Linked DNA regions of Homo sapiens. Changing the gene in region 1 together with any one later gene gives a genetic interaction. Each region holds a gene or a part of one and is shown on either strand. Other genes may lie near its edges.

Region 1 (3,652 bases):
TTTCCTAGTGTCCTCAGCTAGAAGTCACATTCCTTCTTTGAACTCCAAAACATTTATGTACTTTATTTTTTGCACTGATCCCTGATTGTTTTATCTCCAGACATCTTTCTTCCCTACTAAAGCTTCTTGCTGACTGGTTCTGTCTGTGTATGCCACCACCACTCTCTCAGTAGCGTGGGTGCCTGCTTGCTACATAGTATGTGCTGGGTTTCCGTGTCCTCCTGCCCCTTGCCACTTGCCCCTTCTGATTTCAGGAAAACTGATTTGCATTTTTACAATGCGTAGTGAAATGTATAAAAAATGCTGCTGGTATATTAAACTGGTCTTAAGTCATTTTCTGTAAAATGTCAAATTTCTTACTTTTCTTGCATTTTTTAGGGTCCCAGAAGAAAAATAAGAAATTCTACATTTGGCTTTGACAGGCTTCTCATTTATAACTAATGTTTTTGTGATAAACACAGGGCTCAGAGATGTCAGGCTAGCTTTTCCTTTTGTAATATTTGCTAGATGTGGTATTTATTGGGAGACTATTCTCCATGGGTCTCTCACATGTTATGCATGTCTTGGCAAGCAGAGATACAGACTGACTGCTTTTTTTCCTGGACTATCATTTTCAAGGATGTTTATATAACGAGCAGCCTTGCAAGACAGAGATAGTATTTCTCTTCAGAGCAAAGAGCAGGTTTGCTTATGGTCCAGTATAAAAAGTGTCTCCTTCCAGAGCATGTTTACATAGAGTTTATAGTAAGTAAGGATAATGCCACCCTCCAGTGCAAAGAATGGGCATGCTTATGCCCATTATAAAATATTTGAGTTCCTTTTAAGCTCAGGCTCTCTTTCCTGTAACACAACCCATTGCATGTGTAATTGTTACCTGGCCCTTCTATCGCACCCCATGGAAATTGGGGCATGGGGAACTGGCTTAAATACTGACACTGGCTACTGCTATTTCCTTGAGTAGTGAAGTTCTTTGTCTCTGACCTGGGGTCTTGTGTCTTCTGCCAGTATCCATGAAACTGGCAGAATAACTTGTTAGCTTACAAGTAGGGTAAAATCTCAGACCCTTCACAGTTCTTAGTAATAATGTTAAAGCTGCTGTTTTCATACCTGCAAAATCAGCCCTTCTGTAAGTAACTCCTGTTAAGTTTGGATGAGATTAGAATTTAGGTGCCTTATGACTATATACTTTATTTTTCCCCCTATTCTTTTTCATGAAAATAAATTACTCGAGTTAAAGGACTGTCATTCTGAGATTGTCCTTCTGTGAAATAATGATATTAGTGTTGTTCTCTTTCTCTCTTTTCCCCAAATAAAAGCACTGCTGTTTTATGAGGATGAGCTACACTGACAAGCATGTTGATTTGTTTACTTAAAGCTGAAGTTTGGAGTACATATTGTCTTAAAATGAGAAATGGGGTATTTGGGAGGACATTTTTTTAAAATTCGGGTATAACATGACTTTTTAATGATAAATTAGATAAATAATAAAACATGTTGGATAATGATAATGCTAAGGGAAAAGAAAATGAAAGAGGATACGATTGTTTGGGTGGACAAGACAGTTGAAATTTTAGATAATGTTGGCTACAGAAGGCCTTACTGGTGGCTTCTGAGTAAAGAACTGAAGTAAGTTTGGAGATGAGCCATGTGATTTTCTGGAGGGAAGGCATCTGGGTAGAGGGCACAGCAGTGCAAAGGCTCTGCAGCAGAGTGTGCCTGATGGGAGACATTGAGGAGGCCGGTTTGTGATGCTTTGAAAACAGATAATGAGAGGGTTGGAGTATTAACCTTTGTCTTAGCTGTGTTTCTATACTTTACCCCAGAGCATTTGCTTTTATGTTTATATATTAATCACCTTTCCATTTGAGAAATGAGATTCCTTTCTTTAAAAACATTTTGAAAACTACAGAACTAGATAACTTGTCTTCCAAACTATTCTTAGTTCTCATTGACAGTCTCTGTAGGTGCTTATTTTTCAACAGTCAATTTAAGTCCCAGTCTCACATTGGTGTGTTTTTTAATTCAGCAGGTATTCGAGAGCTATATTCAACCCTACTTTATGTGGTTTATTTTTAAGCCCCCACATGATTATATTCCTTGCTTCTGTTGAAGAGAAGAGGCTGAGACAGCTTGGAACAGTTGGAGAATAATATAAGATAACATTCTACCTAAAACCTTTCTAGCCAAGGTTGCTTCTTACCCTTTGTTACCAAATATAAAAGCTAGTTTTCAACTCTTGTTGGCCTCTTAATATTAGGACCATACATTTCCTTGAAACACCATCCTGTCACTCTGGTTGCACCATTTCTCTTTCTCAAGGATTCCTCATTCCTTGAGTTTATGCCTTAACTGCTTCTTCTCACTCTCCTTAATCTCTTCGGATGCTTCTATCTACTATATGGCTTCAGTTACCACCTATAGGTTGTTGATTCTCATATCTAAATTTGTAGTCTAAACCCCTCTCTTGAGCTGAATTGTTAGCATTTGTAATTAGTTGGCTTTTTACATATTCATTTTTATATTTAAAGCAATTTGATATCTTTTACCTAAAAAAAAAAAAAAAGCTAGTTCTTCCTCTCTTTACTTTGGTATAATAGTATTCTTGTCCAGTTGATTAAGTTATAATCTTTATGTTCGTGACCATTAGTCAAAAGCTATCAGGTACGCACCTGTAGTAAACAAAGTTAGGTTTATTGATGCTTTCTGCAGCAAGGGAAGCCACATACCATGGGGAAACCATGAAATGTCGGTAAGATGATGTTGGACAGACTTAGAGAATGTGGGCTTTTGTTGGGTAATTTTGGGGAGGATTCAGGGAAGTGATGAAGGTTTCCTTTGGATTGGATGCTGTGAAGAAGTGGGGATAATTCTATGATTGGGTATCTTCATAAATCTTATCTAGGAGGTGACAAGAACAGAGTGACGCTAAAACTAAATGGTAAAGAAGCAGCAGTCACTTGTGCAAGATGGGATTTTTTGTGGTTTGCATGGAGTCCTTGCTTTTGTCTGTTCTCAGACGCAATTCCACAGTGGCTTGGGTTTGCCTCACTTCCATCATAGTCTGATGTTAGTGATCTGTGAGATCTTGTTTGACAGAAAAATGCCACAGTCTAGCTGTGAGTGCTGAGCCACCTCCTAGCTGTGAAGGGCTGCATTTCTCTCTCTTTCTCACTTATTTGGGATAGATGTAGATTAGGTGGCATTTAGACAATAAGAAGATGTATTTTAGGGTATTTGAACAAATAATTTACATGCTATTGGCTATGTGTGAGGGGCAGTAAAGAAAATTATTATACTGGTAATGTATCAGTAGGATCTAGTGTTATGTTGAAGTAGAGATCACTTGGTTGTTTGTTCTTTATGTATCAATCATACATGGGGCCTTTTATAGCTAAATGTTTGAGTACTTAACTATTTGCCAGACACTAAGTACTTACATGTTCCCTTTTAATCTTTCAAGTAAGTTGAGTCAGAAAGGAAGGATGCATATTCCTGTCTTTGGGAATAAGAACCAAACTGGAAATCCAGGTGTGGCTAGTGGTGTAGACTGTTAAGTAATGTTTAAGAGTGTGAGTTTTAGCATAATAGATTGAATTGATTAGATACAAATGGTTAATAAATTTTAAAAAATAGCCTGTGACAATGTTCAGGA
Region 2 (3,652 bases), on another chromosome or scaffold:
CCTAGTAGCGAGGACTACAGGTGTGCACCACCATGCCAAGTTAATTTTTAGAATTTTTTGTAGAGACAGGGTCTCACTATGTCTCGCGGGCTGGTTTTGAACTCCTCTCAAACAATCCTCTACCTCAGCCTCCCAGAGTGCTGGAAGCAAGCCACTGTGCTGAGCTGCTGGTCACCCTTCCTACATTAACAACTATGGATGTGCCAATCAATGCTGAGATGCTCTGATATGCTCCCAAGAATCTGTTTCCACAAATCACCACAAAACTACTTGTTGTAGCCAGTATACGAGCCAAGGAAGCTGGCCACTAGGATCCCCTGAATTACTTTTTTTTTTTTGAGGTGCAGTCTCGCTCTGTCACCCAAGCTGGAGTACAGTGGCATGATCTCTGCTCACTGCAATGTCCACCTCCTGGGTTCAAGCGAATCTTCTGCCTCAGCCTCCCGAGTAGCTGGGACTACAGGTACATGCCACCGCACCCGGCTAATTTTTTTATTTTTAGTACACACGAGGTTTCACCATATTGGCCAGGCTGGTCTCGAACTCCTGACCTCGTGATCCGCCCGCCTTGGCCTCCCAAAGTGCTGGGATTACATGCGTGAGCCGCCGCACCCAGCCCCTGAATTACCTATGACTTTATCAAGGGAAAGAGTCACCTGTGTTGTTAAAGCTGAGCTGATGACAGCTCCACAAATGTTAACTGAACAAAGTGCCACACTATGTGCCTGTGTCTGAAGATGAATGAGACACAATCTGTGTGTTCTCGGAGCTTCTCCAAGGTGAACTTTTCTGGGGCTTAACCTGCAACTGGCCAGGAACAGCAGCTTAAAATCTCATCAATAGCTGTGCTATTTCAAAGTACTGGCATTCTCCCAGGACATCCCCCAGGGTGTCAAAATTTAGCCAAAGCAAACTTCAAATGAACACAAAGTCCTTATTTTCTCAAAGAAAACAAAACAAAACAGAACAAAAAACCCCCCAGATTTATTTAGCTTAAACATTTCCCCTGATCTAAAGAGAAAGATGGCAAAAGATACCTAGCATATATGCACAAGCACCCACTCCAATGAACTCAGATAACCTGAAAGAAAAAAGGACAAAGTTCTGTTCAACTTAGAAAATTATCTTCGCTTTTGAAAGATGTTTCCACGTCCCATTCCACGTCCTCTTCCTCTTGCGGCCACTGAAAGGGAAGAGAAAATATGAGGCCAGGTCAGTGTGGTCGGTGAATGCTCATAGCACAGAGTAGCCAGGGCCCTAGGACACCAGTTAGAAGGGTTCTGAAGGGTTACCTGGTCCAACACCACCCTGGCCATTGCATTTCCACCTCCCGCCTTTTTTTTTTTTTATTTTTTGAGACGGAGTCCCACTCTGTCACCCAGGCTGGAGTGCAGTGGCATGATCTCGGCTCACTGCAATCTCCACCTCCTGGGATTAGGCGATTCTCATGTCTCAGCCTCCTACTTGAGTAGCTGGGACTACAGCCGTGAACCACAACGCCCGGCTAATTTCCTGTATTTTTAGTAGAGACAGGGTTTCACCATGTTGGCCAGGCTGGTCTTAAACTCCTGACCTCAGGTGATCCACCCACCTCGGCCTCCCAAAGTGTCAGGATTACAAGCATAAGCCAACACGTCCAGCTGACAGCCACTGCATTTAACAGGGGGGATGGAGACGGAGGGGCAGGGGCTGGGGACTGGCATCAAAGCAGGAGCTAGCAGCACACTCTTGCCTTCCAGTCCCACACTGCTCTCTACAAGAGGCTGGGAGGCAGCATGCTGAGGGCAAAGAAGGTGGTCTGAGAGCTACAGAAAAGACAAATCCTTGGGGCTGGCCTTGGGTGAGCTGAAAAACATTATAGATGCACTGAATTAATTTTTTCAATTCTGAAACAAATATAGTTAAGTGTTAACATGTGTTAGATCTGGGAGAAGGGTTATATTATCTTTTGTATTTTTTTCTGAGAAAATAATTATTTCAGGCTGGGTGCAGTGGCTCATGTCTGTAACCCCAGGGCTTTGCGAGTCCAAGGCAGGCAGATCACTTGAGGTCATAAGTTTGAGACCAGACTGGCCAACATGGCAAAACCCCTTCTCTACTGAACACACAAAAATTAGCTGCACGTGGTGGTATGCGCCTGTAATCCCAGTTACTTGGGAGGCTGAGGCAAGAGAATCACTTGAACCTGGGAGTTGGAGGAGGTGGCAGTGAGCTGAGATCAAGCCACCGCACTGCAGCCTGGGTGATGGAGACTCAGTCTCCAAAAAAAAAAAAAAAAAAAAAGAATTATTTCATAGTAGCAAAAAGAAAACACACTCCATATAAATAGCATGATAAGACTGCTGTTCTCCTCTGTAACCCAGGGGTTCTAGGAGAAGACAGGCTTTGAAGAACAAATAAAATATTCTTTTTTTTTGAGATGGAGTCTAGCTCTGTCACCTAGGCTGGAGTGCAGTGGCACGATTTCGGCTCACTGCAACCTCCACCTCCTGGGTTCAAGCGATTCTCCTGCCTCAGCCTCCCGAGTAGCTGGGACTACAGGGACCTGCCACCATGCCCAGCTAATTTTTGTATTTTTAGTAGAGACGGGGTTTCACTGTGTTGGCCAGGCTGGTCTCGAACTCCTGACCTCGTGATCTGCCCACCTCGGCCTCCCAAAGTGCTAGGATTACAGGCATGGGCCACTGCGCCCGGCCCCTCACACTATTACATCTTTAAACTTGAGCTTTCATCTATGGTTCCCAGCTCGTAACTCCTATAGTCCTTGTTATAGTCTTTTGTTATAACATTGGGGCACTTTAGGCCTCAGAAGCAGGACTCAGGAGACAGAATCTCTCTCTTGAAACTTCTCCTGCCCTCCTTTCACCTGCCCAAGGCAGGACCCTAATCTGATTGTGGGTCATAAGACCTCACTCCAGAGAAAGGTCCTGCCCTATACCCTGGAGGAACAAATGCTGCAGAGAGAGGCCAAAAAGAATCTGGACAGGCCTCGCGGGGTTTCCCAACCCCGTCTATTAGTGTTAGATCACACCCATTTTGTCTAATGGCATTTCCACATGGTTGTCCATCCTTTAATCATGACTATCCAATAAAGTCTCCATAAAAGGCCCAAGAGGGCAGGGTTAGGGGAGCTTCGGGACAGCTGATCATGCGCAGCCTGACAGGAAGGTGAACAAGAACTCATCCATGTGCCGGGAGGAAACTCCATGGGGCTAGAAGCTCTTGTGCTTGCGACCCTTCCAGATCTCACCCTATGCATCTCTTCATGTGGCTGTTTATTTGTAGCCTATAAAATATCCTGTTATAAACCAGTAAATTTAAGTATGTGATTCCCGAGTTGTGTGAGCTACTCCAGCAAATTAATCGAACCCAAGGAGTGAGACGTGAGAACCCTGGCTTGAAGCCATTCAGATGTTCTGGAGGCCTGTGCTTATGAATAATAGTGGGGGGTGCAGGGGCTGTCTTGTGGGACCGAGCCCTCAACCTGTGGTTTTTCAGGCTATCTCCAGGTAGATAGTGTCAGAACTGAAGGACACCCAGCTGGTGTCTACTGCAGAACTGACTGCTTGCTTGGTCACAGAAGTCTTTGTTGATTGTTGTGTTGTGAGAGCAGAGGAAAAACACAGTTTGACTTTTTTCCTCACACACATAT

Evidence for each region.
Region 2: changes in GTF2E1 (region 1) and SNRPD3 together harm fitness less than expected from each alone (positive genetic interaction), as found in Homo sapiens cells (one large-scale study listed by BioGRID).

Annotation. Positions count from the first base shown.
Region 1 is NC_000003.12:120,766,649-120,770,300, forward strand, and holds part of GTF2E1 (general transcription factor IIE subunit 1), read left to right. Parts: intron 1-3,652.
Region 2 is NC_000022.11:24,569,447-24,573,098, reverse strand, and holds part of SNRPD3 (small nuclear ribonucleoprotein Sm D3), read right to left. Parts: intron 1,184-3,652; coding exon 1,122-1,183; 3' UTR 1-1,121. UniProt on the Homo sapiens protein: Plays a role in pre-mRNA splicing as a core component of the spliceosomal U1, U2, U4 and U5 small nuclear ribonucleoproteins (snRNPs), the building blocks of the spliceosome.